Regions from separate parts of the Homo sapiens genome. Here regions 1 and 2 are each linked to region 3. The links come from fine-mapping of genetic effects on gene expression. A gene starts in region 3. Each other region holds a variant in brackets. All regions are shown on one strand. Distances are between the middles of the regions.

What was found. PIP is the estimated chance that this variant, and not a neighbour inherited with it, causes the effect. A credible set is the group of variants that fine-mapping cannot tell apart.
Region 1: its variant is the best candidate, but not a certain one, in a credible set for the expression of RNF10 in monocytes (Fairfax 2014, PIP 0.51).
Region 2: its variant is the best candidate, but not a certain one, in a credible set for the expression of RNF10 in sigmoid colon (GTEx, PIP 0.63).

What each region holds. Positions count from the first base shown.
Region 1 is chr12:120,565,513-120,569,755 of GRCh38, forward strand. It overlaps RNF10 (ring finger protein 10), which reads left to right. Exons shown (of 17, transcript NM_014868.5): 12 at 1-17; 13 at 1,313-1,468. Among named protein-coding and RNA genes, the nearest start is that of POP5, 14 kb to the right of the region's middle. The variant C/CA (reference allele first, on the strand shown) is at 1,823.
Region 2 is chr12:120,661,015-120,665,257 of GRCh38, forward strand. CABP1 (calcium binding protein 1) reads left to right here. Exons shown (of 6, transcript NM_001033677.2): 5 at 57-204. Among named protein-coding and RNA genes, the nearest start is that of CABP1, 23 kb to the left of the region's middle. The variant T/C (reference allele first, on the strand shown) is at 1,983.
Region 3 is chr12:120,532,619-120,536,861 of GRCh38, forward strand. RNF10 (ring finger protein 10) reads left to right here and starts at 1,738. Exons shown (of 17, transcript NM_014868.5): 1 at 1,738-2,350. The coding sequence starts at 2,194. It overlaps LOC128071547, which reads left to right and starts at 2,079. Exons shown (of 1, transcript NM_001414895.1): 1 at 2,079-2,339. The coding sequence starts at 2,079. The coding sequence ends at 2,339. RefSeq lists silencers at 1,636-1,789, 1,888-1,957.

The DNA of each region.
Region 1 (4,243 bases), 33 kb after region 3:
CAAGAAACAGGGCAAGTGTAAGTTCAGGAACTTTCATCTTTGACTAGCACTGCTGTACGTCGTTGTATAGAACTCTGTGTCTGGGACCTGGGAGCCAGACCTTAGCCACTTGTTTTCTTCAACTTTTAAATGTGAATCATGAGAGCACCTCCTTAATAGGCTTGCTTGCAAATATAATGAGTTAATATGGGTCAAAGTGCCTAGCACATAGTAAGGATTAAGAGGAAATTCAGCCTTGGTAATAGTGGGTGATATACACCTGTTCCAGAGATGGGAATTGGGGCTTCGCTAAGAATGCTGGGGGCCATCGTTCCCCATGCTCTCTGGATCACTGACCTTACCTCTGACTCTTTATTAAAGGGACCAGCTATACACAGCAAGTCTGCCAGGTGGGTCTGATAAGATGGAAATTTTGATAGACTAGGAAATGCAGGAAGTTGGATTTAAGAGATCTTTCGTAGCAGTAAGCACAGCCTTTTGATCTGGTTCTCCAAAATAAGTTTCATTGAATCCAGGGGATTAGTGTGACCTGAGGTCCCATTATCCACTAGAACACAAGGAACTGAGTCCTTGGCCCAGAAAAGGACTTCGGTGTTTTGACTCCATATGGCATGGAAACATACATTTTATATCTCAAGTGGGACAAGTGTATACTTGGGGTCCCAACACCGTGTAGGTGTTTGGCACATGTCCTGAACTTTGAGAAAACTGATATTTCAGGAATAGGATTTTTTGTTTTCACCTTTTTATTATGGAAATATCAAGACAAGTAGAACAATGTAATTAACCTGCATGTTTGTTACCCAGCCTCAATTATGAATAGTTAGAACAAGGTTAACTATATTAAAGACATTATAGAAGGACAGTTATTGTAAATTTGGGTTTTAGCTTTTGTCTGCATCCTCTAGACCTTTGGGGGTACGCATGTGTGATGTCCTCAACTGTTGGAAACTATTTGAAAAATTCAGGCCAGGTGTGGTGGCTCACGTCTATAATCCCAACACTTTGGGAGGCCAAGGTGGGCAGATCACTTGAGCTCAGGAGTTCAAGACCAGGCTGGACAACATGGTGAAACCTCATCTCTTTAAAAATTCAAAAAATTAGCTAGGTGTGGTGGCACGTGCCTGTGGTCCCGGCTACTCGGGAGGCTGAGGTGGGAGGATCGCTTGAGCCTGGGAGGCAGAGGATGCAGTGAACAGAGATCGTACCACTACACTCCAGCCTGGGTGACAGAGTGAGACCCCATCTCAAAAAAAAAAAAAAAAAATTGAATTCTGTAAATGGGTTTACAAGGGTTATCTTTCCTTTGCAGACCCAGAAGTCCACATTCCCCTCGAGAATCTACAGCAGTTTCCTGCCTTCAATTCTTATACCTGCTCCTCTGATTCTGCTTTGGGTCCCACCAGCACCGAGGGCCATGGGGCCCTCTCCATTTCTCCTCTCAGCAGAAGTCCAGGTTCCCATGCAGGTAAACAGGTGAAATTTAATGAATTCACCCATCAGTTAGACCTTATGCAAAGCTTTGGTGTCTGAGTTTACAACCCCGGCCCACTCAGCATGGTGTGGACTTCAGGGGCATAACCTTACTTTGGTAGTCCTGAGGTACATCAAATTCTTTTATTCATCTTTCCCACTTGCTATACTGACTGCTTTACCCTGCCAGCTTCTAAGCACCTCAAGGAGCTCTTTAGGCAGGATAGTTGAAAATGGAGTCTTCCCTTTGACCCACCTATTTTTGTTTCTAGTTTTTGTTTGAGATACTCCCCTGTATGCCTAAACATCTTTGTACATGTCTCTTTATTGTAGCATCGTTTTAATAGCT[C/CA]AAAAAAAAAAAACAGTTTAGAAAGCCTACCAATAAGAAAATGACTAAATTATAGTATTTATACTGTAAAATGTTTCACACCAGAAGGCCGGGCGTGGTGGCTTATGCCTGTAATCCCAGCACTTTGGGAGGCCAAGGCGGGTGGATCACGAGGTCAGGAATTCAAGACCAGCCTGACCAACACAGTGAAACCCTATCTCTACTGAAAATACAAAAATTAGCAGGGCATGGTGGCAGGCGCCTGTAGTCCCAGCTACTTGGGAGGCTGAGGCAACAGAATTGCTTGAACCTGGGAGGCGGAGGTCTCAGTGAGACAAGGTTGCGTCACTGCATTCCAGCCTGGGCGACAGAGCGAGACTTTGTCTCAAAAAAAAAAAAAAAAAATCACACCTGTTAAAGAAGGGAATGTAATTCTTCTATTCACGTACTAATGGGAAGATAAAAGTAATTTGTAGAACAAGAATAAATGTTCGTGGGTTTTAAAAAAACACCACCACCACCACAAAACTAAAGCATTTCATTATGGGTGTGTGTGTGTGTGTGTGTGTATGTATATATATATATGTAAATGTATAGAAAAACTTCTGTTAGAAGGCAGGGGAGGAAATAAAAAAATATTAAATGTATAGAAAAGAATTGAAGGCCAGGCACGGTGGCTCACACCTGTAATCTCAGCACTTTGGGAGGCCAAGGTGGGCAGATTCCCTTGAGCTCAGGAGTTCAAGACCAACCAAATTTTGTCTCTACAAAAAATACGAAATTTAGCCAGGTGTGGTAGTGTGTACCTGTAGTCCCAGCTACTTGGGAGGCTGAGGTGGGGAGATGGCTTGAGCCTAGGAGGCAAAGGTTGCAGTGAGCCCAGATTGGGCCACTGCACTCTAGCCTGGGCAACACAGCCAGACCCTCTCAAAAAAAAAAAGAAAAATACTGAGACAGATGTGTTCCAAATTGGTAGTAGTGTTACATTCTAAGGAATGAGACTGGATTGAAATGTTCAAATGGGCCTTTAGCCTTCAAAAAGTTTGTCTTATATATAAAGAATGTTTAAAGTGTTATGAAATTAAACATTTATTAAAGAGTTACTATAATTTCAGAGAACTATCTTTTGTGATCTTCATCTGCCTGGCACATGGTTTATTAATTTCTTTTTTTTTTTTTTGAGATGGAGTCTAGCTCTGTCACCCAGGCTGGAGTGCACTGGTGCAATCTCAGCTAACTGCAACCTCTGCCTCCCGGGTTCAAGCGATTCTTCTGCCTCAGCCTCATGAGTAGCTGGGATTACAGGTGTGCGTCACCATGCCTGGCTAATTTTTGTATTTTTAATAGAGACAGGGTCTCTCCATGTTGGCCAGGCTGGTCTCGAACTCCTGGCCTCAAGTGTTCTGTCTGCCTCAACCTCCCAAAGTGCTGGGATTGCAGGTGGGAGCTACTGTGCCCAGCCTGTTTGTTTTTAAGAGATAGGGTCTTGCTCAGTGCTGTGATGCATTCATTAGCTCACTGCAGTCTTGAACTCCTGGGCTCAAGTGATCCTCCTGCCTGAGCCTCCCAGAGTGCTGGGATTCCAGGTGTGAGCCACTGTACCTGGCCAAGAAAGATACTTTTTGATGCTTACGTCTGATTTCTCAGGCATTCTTGTTTTGTTTTGTTTTGTTTTAGATGGAGTTTCGCTCTTGTTGCCCAGGCTGGAGTGCAATAGTGCAATCTCAGCTTACTGCAACCTCTGCCTCCTGGGTTCAAGCGATTCTCCTGCCTCAGCCTCCAAGTAGTTTGGATTACAGGCATATGCCACCATGCCTGGCTAATTTTGTATTTTTAGTAGAGACAGGGTTTCTCCATGTTGGTCAGGCTAGTCTCAAACTCCTGACCTCAGGTGATCCGCCAGCTGACCTCAGGTAATCCACCTGCCTTGGCCTCCCAAAGTCCTGGGATTACAGGCATGAGCCACTGTGCCTGGCCTCTGTCGGGCATTCTTAACAAAGTGTCCATCATTGGAATATTTAAAACTTGTGGTGACCATTTTGTTCATATGCATATCATTTTGCAGATTAGGAACCTGTGGCTGAGGCAGGTACTTAGTGGCAAGAACTGGGATTAGAACCTGGTTCTTGAGGACTGCACTACTGTGACGCTCTTCTGCTTAACTGAAAAAGGAGCATACGAAGGACTGTGGCAGATCATTAAATACATTATTTGTGATATGCATCTTTTTTTTTTTGAGACAGGGTCTCGCTCTGTCGCCCAAACTGGAGTGCAGTGGCACAAGGCACAATCTCGGCTCACTGCAACCTCTGCGTCCCAGGTTGAAGCAATTCTTGTGCCTCAGCCTCCCGAGTAGCTGGGATTACAGGCAGCACCACCATACCCTGCTAATTTTTGTATTTTTAGTAGAGATGGGGTTTCGCCATGTTGGCCAGGTTGGTC
Region 2 (4,243 bases), 130 kb after region 3:
TGCTGCTGCCAATCGCCATGCTGGGGCGACCTCTCCTTCCTTCCTGCCTTCTCTAGTTTGACACCAATGGTGATGGGGAAATAAGCACCAGTGAGCTGCGAGAGGCTATGAGGAAGCTCCTGGGTCATCAGGTGGGACACCGAGACATAGAGGAAATTATCCGAGATGTGGACCTCAATGGGGATGGACGAGTGGACTTTGAAGGTAGGTGGGGCTTGAAAGTGGGAGAGAAGCAAGCCAGCAGTGGCCATCCATGGAGCCCTCCAATTGTGTATCCATCATGCAACCATCAATCCGCCCTAATTTTCCAACCCCCAGCCCTTTCATCCTCTTATCCCTCCGTCCATGCCCCCGTCTAATCCATCTCCCATCCCTTCCCCATGCATCTATTCATGCATCTGTCCATCCATCTATCCATCCTCTACCTTTCCATTCATCTGTCCATTTATCCATCCATTCATCTACCTATCTATCCATCTGTCCACCATCCATCCATCCATCCATTTATCTACCCATCTATCCATCCATCCATCCTCTACCTATCCATCCATCTGTCCATTTATCCATTCATCCATTCATCTACCTATCTATCTATCTGTCCATCATCCATCCATCCATTTATCCATCCATCCATCCGTCCATCCATTCGTCTACATATCTATCCATCCATCCATCCATCCATCCACCTATCCATCCATCTGTCCATCCATTCATCTACCTATTCATCTATCTGTCCATCTTTCCATATCTATCTCTCCATTTTTCATCTGTTTATCTCCTTATCTGTCCAGATGCCTATTTATCCATTCCTCCATCTCTAAGCAATCATTCCTATAGCAATTTATCCATGCATTTATCTGTCCATTCGTGCATCTATTCATTCTTCTCTACATTCACCCATGAATCTATCTATGTATTCATCTACTCATATAGATCTCTCTATGTGTTCACACTTCTATACTTCCATTCACACATTCATGTCTCTTCGTCTGCATATACTTCTACCCATACTTGCATTGATCTATCCATCTATCTGTTCAGTCATTTCCTCATCTATATCCATCTACTCATCCATTCACCCATCCCTGTGTCCATCTGCACCCATCCTTCTCTATCCATTTATCTGTCTACCCACGCATGCATCCATCCACGGTAGGTGTTTTCTGAACATTACATTCCTCAACTGGACACTCAGGCTCCCTAAGATCTGACCACAGCTCACCTCCCCAGCCACAACTCAACAGTCCTTCATTCACACTCCACCAAAATACTTGTGATCAGTGAAGCTGCTAGGGTCCCTCTTGAATACACTGATCTTTTTGCCAGGAGGGCTTTTTTGTTGTTGTTTGTTTGTTTGTTTGTTTGAGACAGAGTCTCACTCTGTTGCCCAGGCTGGAGTGTGGTGGCAGGATCTTGGCTCACTGCAAACTGCGCCTCCCAGATTCAAGTGATTCTCCTGCCTCAGCTTCCCAAGTAGCTGGGATTACAGGCGCCCACCACCATGCCCGGCTAATTTTTGTATTTTCAGTTGAGACGGGGTTTCACCATGTTGACCAGGCTAGTCTTGAACTCCTGACCTCAAGTGATCCACCCGCCTCGGCCTCCCAAAGTGCTGGGATTACAGGCGTGAGCCACTGTGCCTGGCCACCAGGAGGGCTTTTATCCTGTTCTTTTTTTTTTTTTTTTTGAGACAAAGTCTCGCTCTTGTACTCCAGGCTGGAGTGCAATGGCACGATCTCAGCTCACTGCAACCTCTGCCTCCTGGATTCAAGCGATTCTCCTGCCTCAGCCTCCCGAATAGCTGGGATTACAGGCGCCTACCACCACGTCCAGCTAGTTTTTGTATTTTCAGTAGAGATGGGGTTTCACTATGTTGGCCAGGCTGGTCTGGAACTCCTGAACTCAGGTGATCCACCCGCCTTGGCCTCCCAAAGTGCTGGGATTATAGGTGTGAGCCACTGCATCTGGCCTATCCTGTTTTT[T/C]ACTTGGGCTAAGTTCTGTTAGCCCAAGGGACATTCTTCATGACTCGACAGTGGGACTCCTTCTTCTAGCACCCTTCCCTGGTTCCTCAAACTGAACTTCCTCTTTTCTGGGTTTTCACAGCACGTCAGGCTCACCTGTTCTTCACACTGTCCCCTAACTGCTGGTTAGAGTTGTCTTCCCAGTTGACTCTGAACTTTGAAAGAAGAACCCTATTTTCTTAATCACTGCATTTCTTGCATAACACAGCTAGTGCTCAGTGAAAGGTTATTTATTTATTTATTTATTTATTTATTTTAAGACAGGGTCTTGCTCTGTCGCCCAGGCTGGAGTGCAGTGGCGTAATCTCGGCTCACTGCAACCTCCGCCTCCCGGGTTCAAGTGATTCTTGTGGCTCAGCCTCCCGAGTAGCTGGGACTATAGGGGTGCACCACCATGCCTGGCTAATTTTTTGTATTTTTAGTAGAGACAGGGTTTCACCATGTTGGCCAGGCTGGTCTCGAACTCCTGGCCTCAAGTGATCCACCCGCCTTAGCCTCCCAAAGTGCTGGGATTACAGTCGTGAGCCACCGCGCCCAGCCTCAAAGACTTTCTTTTTAAAGAATCAATAGTAATCATAATAGTTATAATTTACTGTACACTTATGTGCAGTCATTGTACTAAGTAGCTTTACACATATTCTTACATTTAATTCTCAGAATGACTCTATGGATTGCATTATTATAACCTCATGTTACAGATGAGGAAACTGAGGCTCAGAGAAGTAATATAACTAGCTCAAGATTGCCTGCCTACTAAGAGGCAGAGCTGGGGCACAGCCCCAGGCCTGAAATCACAGCAGAATGCAGTCTTGTGCATGACGCCATGTGAGGCACTACGGGATACAGGGAAAGGGTAAAATGTTGACTCTGCACACCAGGAACTTGCATTCTGAGCAGAAAGACAAGATAAGCATGTGCCAGAGACCGTGAGTGTCCAGAACACAAAGGCTGGGAGGTTTTCTCTCAGGAGCAGTTGGCCTTCAAGGCCAGGGAGCGTGGATAGTTGGAGAGAAGGCTTTGTTATCACCAGATCTGGAAATCTCAGGTCTCCCTGTATCCAGGTAGCGCCCACCACAGATGACAGCCTTGCTCTTGAAAGCCTGGCATCCCCCATTCATCCTACGAGGATGCATTGTACATCTGCTGTGTGCTAAGATCTGGTCTCTGCCTCGAAGAGCTCAAAACCAGCAAGAAAACCAGAGAAAACAATAGCATAATCCATGTGTGCTGGGGGAAGCACAGGGGGCTGCTATAGAGGGGGCGCCTGTGCCAAGTTGCAGGGAGGGATTAGGGAAGACTTCCTGGAGGAGGTTATAAATAATTAGAGCCCCCCAAAATGGGAAGAGCCACCAGGTGAGAGGGAAGGGCAGGTATTTACCCAAATGAGTTGAAAACCTATGTCCACACAAATCTGTACATAGATGCTTATAGCAGCTTTATTCATAATTGTCCAAACTTGGAAACAACCAAGGTGTCCTTTCAGTAAGTGATGGATAAATAAACGGGGGCACATCCAGACAATGGGATATTGCTCAGTGCTAAAAAGAGATGAGCTAGGCCAGGCGCTGTGGCTCATGCCTGTAATCCCAGCACTATGGTAGGCCGAGGTGGGCAGATCACTTGATGTCAGGAGTTTGAGACCAGCCTGATCAACATGGTGAAACCCTGTCTCTATTAAAAATACAAAAAAAATTAGCTGGGTGTGGTGGCGCACACCTGTAATCCCAGCACTTGGGAGGCTGAGACACAGAATCGCTTGAACCCGGGAGGCGGAGGTTGTAGTGAGCTGAGATGGTACTGCTGCACTCCAGCCTGGGCAACAGAGCAAGACTCTGTCTCAAAAAGAAAAAAAAAAAAGAGAGAGAGAGAGATGAGCTATCTAGTCATGAAAAGACATGGTGAAGAGGGGACACACATGCATATTACTAAGTGAAAAGCCAATCTGAAAACACTGCATACCCTATGATTTCATCTATATGACATTCTGGAAAAGGCAAAACTATGGAGACAGTAAAAAGATCAGTGGGTGCAAGGGGTTGGGGGGAGGGAGGGATGAATAGGCAGAGAAGAGAAGATTTTTAGGGCAGTGAAACTATTCTGTATGAGGCCAGGTACAGTGGCACATGCCTGTAATCCTAGTATTTTGGGAGGCTGAGGCAGGAGGATCACTTGAGGTCAGGAGTTCGAGACCAGCCTGGGCAACATGGTGAAACCCCGTCTCT
Region 3 (4,243 bases):
TCAAGTGATCATCCCTCCTCAGCCTCCTGAGTAGCTGGGACTACAGGCACACTTAGTCTAAAATTTAGTTATTGAGAAGATTAAATGTGATAATGTTAACAGCTGTTAAATACAATTTATAGGAGCCCATTGTTTTGCACTGAGCTTCAGCACAGTAGACCAAACCAAAACAGAGTTACTCAAGGTGAATTTCTACCCAACCACGCCTAAACGAAATTGTTTATCTGACCTTCTGAGAAATCATCAAATCCCCAAACTGGTCAGTTTTACCCCACATAAGGAAGTCCATTCTGCTTAAACCTTTACAAGAAAAGTAATTTTGAAATGACTAATCTGCTTTTTGTTCTCTGTTTCTACTTTTTAAAAAAAAGTTTAGACAGGGTCTCCCTCTCTGTCACTCATACTGGAGTGCACTGGCACGATCGTATCTCACTGCAACCTCCAACTGCTGGGCTCAGGTGATCCTCCCACCTCAGTTTCCTGAGTAGCTAGAACTACAGGTGTGCAGCCACAGCCACTATGCTTGGCTAATTTTTTTTTCTTTCTCTCTTTTAAATTAAAGTTAGTTTTATTCAAACTATTTTATTCAGAGCCCAGCTAATTTTTGTATTTTTAATAGGGTCGGGATTTTGCTATGTTGGCCAGGCTGGTCTTGAACTCCTGGCCTCAAGTGATCTGCCCCCTCCTCAGACTCCCAAAGGGCTGGAATTACAGGTGTGAGCCACCACGCCCGGCTGCCCAACTAATTTTTTAAAAAATATTTTTATTCTTTAGAGACAGGGGTCTCGCTATATTCCCCAGGCTGGTCTGGAACTCCTGGCCTCCAAGGATCCTTCCACCTCTGCCTCCCAAAGTGTTGGGATTACACGCATGAAACACTGCTTATGGCCTGTTTCCGCCTCTGTCTCCTGGGTAATGGGGACCACAGGTGCGCACCGCCACGCCAGGCTAAAGAAATAAAGTGATGTACTGTATGAAGAAGTGCCGTAAAGTGATATTAAATGTAAGGTATTGTCATTATTAACGTTATTATTATTATTCCTAATATGAGATAGACTAAAGGCCATAAATCAATTGGTATTAACGCTAGAATAAGAACCATAAATTGGCCGGGCGCGGTGGCTCACGTCTGTAATCCCAGCACTTTGGGAGGCCGAGGTGGGCAGATCACGAGGTCAGGAGATCAAGACCATCCTGGCTAACACGGTGAAACCGTGTCTCTACTAAAAATACAGAAAATTAGCCGGGCGTGGTGGCGGGCGCCTGTGGTCCCAGCTACTCGGGAGGCTGAGGCAGGAGAATGGCGTGAACCCGGGAGGCGGAGCTTGCAGTCAGCCCAGATCGCGCCACTGCACTCTAGCCTGGGCGACAGAGCGACTCCGCCTCAAAAAAAAAAAAAAAGAACCATAAATCAAACGAGTCTATAAAGGAGTTCCACAGGTATTCCAATGTTTGGCTACATTATTATCAGTGTATATTATTATTGTTACTGTATTTTTAGTGTACTAAGTGAAAAACCTGGACTTGGAGCAACTGCAAGTCCCATTATTTTGAATGCCCTCACAGTGGGGTTGGGGCGGAGGTGGGGGAGGAAATAAAAAAAACAAAACCAAAACAAACAAACAAACAAAAACCAAAAAACAAACCACGAGACCCGGATGTAGGCAAAAACTACATTTCCCAGAATACCTCACCCCCTCTCCACTATATATACAGTCCATCCGGGTTCTTTGAGATGCTGTTTGGCGACTCGTCGCCATTCCCGGAGCAGGTCGGCCTCGGCCCAGGGGCGAGTATCCGTTGCTGTGTCGGAGACACTAGTCCCCGACACCGAGACAGCCAGCCCTCTCCCCTGCCTCGCGGCGGGAGAGCGTGTCCGGCCGGCCGGCCGGCGGGGCTCGCGCAACCTCCCTCGCCTCCCCTTCCCCCGCAGCCTCCGCCCCGCCAGGCCCGGCCCGGACTCCCGAGCCCCGGCCTCCTCGTCCTCGGTCGCCGCTGCCGCCGGGCTTAACAGCCCCGTCCGCCGCTTCTCTTCCTAGTTTGAGAAGCCAAGGAAGGAAACAGGGAAAAATGTCGCCATGAAGGCCGAGAACCGCTGCCGCCGCCGACCCCCGCCGGCCCTGAACGCCATGAGCCTGGGTCCCCGCCGCGCCCGCTCCGCTCCGACTGCCGTCGCCGCCGAGGCCCCCGTTGATGCCGCTGAGCTCCCCCAACGCCGCCGCCACCGCCTCCGACATGGACAAGAACAGCGGCTCCAACAGCTCCTCCGCCTCTTCGGGCAGCAGCAAAGGGCAACAGCCGCCCCGCTCCGCCTCGGCGGGGCCAGCCGGCGAGTCTAAACCCAAGAGCGGTAAGGACGGGCCTGCGGCAGTGGGCGGGGGCGACTGCCCCTGCTGCTGGGGAGAGTCGTTGCTCTCATCGGCTGGGTTACTCGGGGACAGGCTCCACTTTCTTTTATAGCTCCTACCTGCCCTTTTCCATGGCTCTCATTTGCAGTTACATTAATGAGCGCTGTGCTGCGTGGTTTACGTGGATCATTTACATTAATACTCAAAACTGCTCGATTAAGCAGGTGCTGTTCTTATCGCCATTTTGCATATGATGAGAAAGGGTAAGGTCACCCAGCTAGTATTTGGCTCACAGCAGGCCTTAAGACTTGGTTTGTGTGACTCATCAGTCCACGCTCCTAAAACCACTAAGTTGTTCTACCCTTTAATGTTGAATTAACATTGGATAGTGTTCAAGTTTAGATGGGTGGGTGAGGGCCCAAGGACCTTTCAAACTCAGATCTCTTATTTAATAACCTGGTCCCAGATCCATTCCTCTGTCGAAGAGGAAGTCATCCTTCAGTGGCTATTCATTGTGGGGTTAAGAGCGCAGACTATGAATTCAGTCTTTTTGGGTCCCAGTTTGCCAGACCTTGAGTGAGTGCCCCGAGTTTACTTACTTGTAAAGGTAGGTGGAGGTAATATAATTAAATAAACTTAAAAAACTAATTAAAAACAAAACAAATGAACTAAGGTCTTAGGATATCTGGCGTCTATTTTGCGCCAAATACACATAATGTCTATTGTTGTGTGTTGGACTATAGGATTGTCCTTTAACAGGGAAGGTTTTATTTCTGTAATCAAGTCTGTCAATATTATGACCATGTTGATAATAGCTACCTTTAATTGAGGGCTTACCATGTGCCAAGTACTAGGTGAAGTTTTTACCTCTGTTTTCACTGTGCCAGTCACTGACTTGTCTACCAGGGTGAAATTGTTCATATTTAAAGAAGGAATAAACTGAGCAGGTAGGATGTTAGGAGTTGGCAGAGGCTAGAGTCCCGGTGTTCTTCATTTTATTTCGAAGTTTGTACTAATCTCTGCTCTCTTTTGTATTTCAGTCACATTAGCAGTAATAGGAAGGTGTTTTCAGCGACAGTGGGGATGTTGTGGCAGAGAGGGAAATATTTGAAGTCCCTAAATGTGGAGGTCCAGTTTAAAACTTGTCAAGATTAAAAAAACTGTTTAGAGTGAGACCGGGCGCGGTGGCTCATGCCTGTAATCCGAACACTTTGGGAGGCTGAGGTGGGAGGATAGCTTGAGCCCAGGAGTTTCACACCAGCTTGGGCAAGATAGTAAGACCCTCGTCTCCATAAGAAAAAAAAAAAATTAGCCGAGTGTGGTGGCACACACCTGTAACCCTACCTACTTGGAAGGGTAAGGTGGGAGGATCGCTTAAGCTCAAGGAAGTTGAGGCTGCGGTGAGCTATATCACGATACTGCATACCATCCAGCCTGGGTAACAGAGACCCCCATCTCTAAACAGTAAAAAGAAAACTAAGGCTGACTTAAAACAAACAAAAAAAACAGAAAATTGTAAGGTCTGCTAACTCGCTCAGAGTTCACCTGCTGGATATGGCAAACTTGTTTACCTGGTGTGAGACCATTGGAGTATGGGTTCTCGGGCCGTGTCAGGAAATGGCATGTATGCAGACTGATTTTGCAGTTCTGCACATGCGTAGCTTTGCCATAGATCCCTCAAAAGATAGAAGGTAACCAGTCCTTTTGGTCAGTGTTGGAACTGGTTTAGAGTGGTCTGTTCAAAGCAATTGATAAGTAAGTTTATTTTTGTACTCTATTCCCAGATGTATGTTAAGGATTTGGTTCTCCAACTGTGAATTCTCAACTAATTTTTCTGGGGCTCCTCTTTAAGCCACTAACATACATTCATTAGTCAGTTGCAATAAATGCCTTAA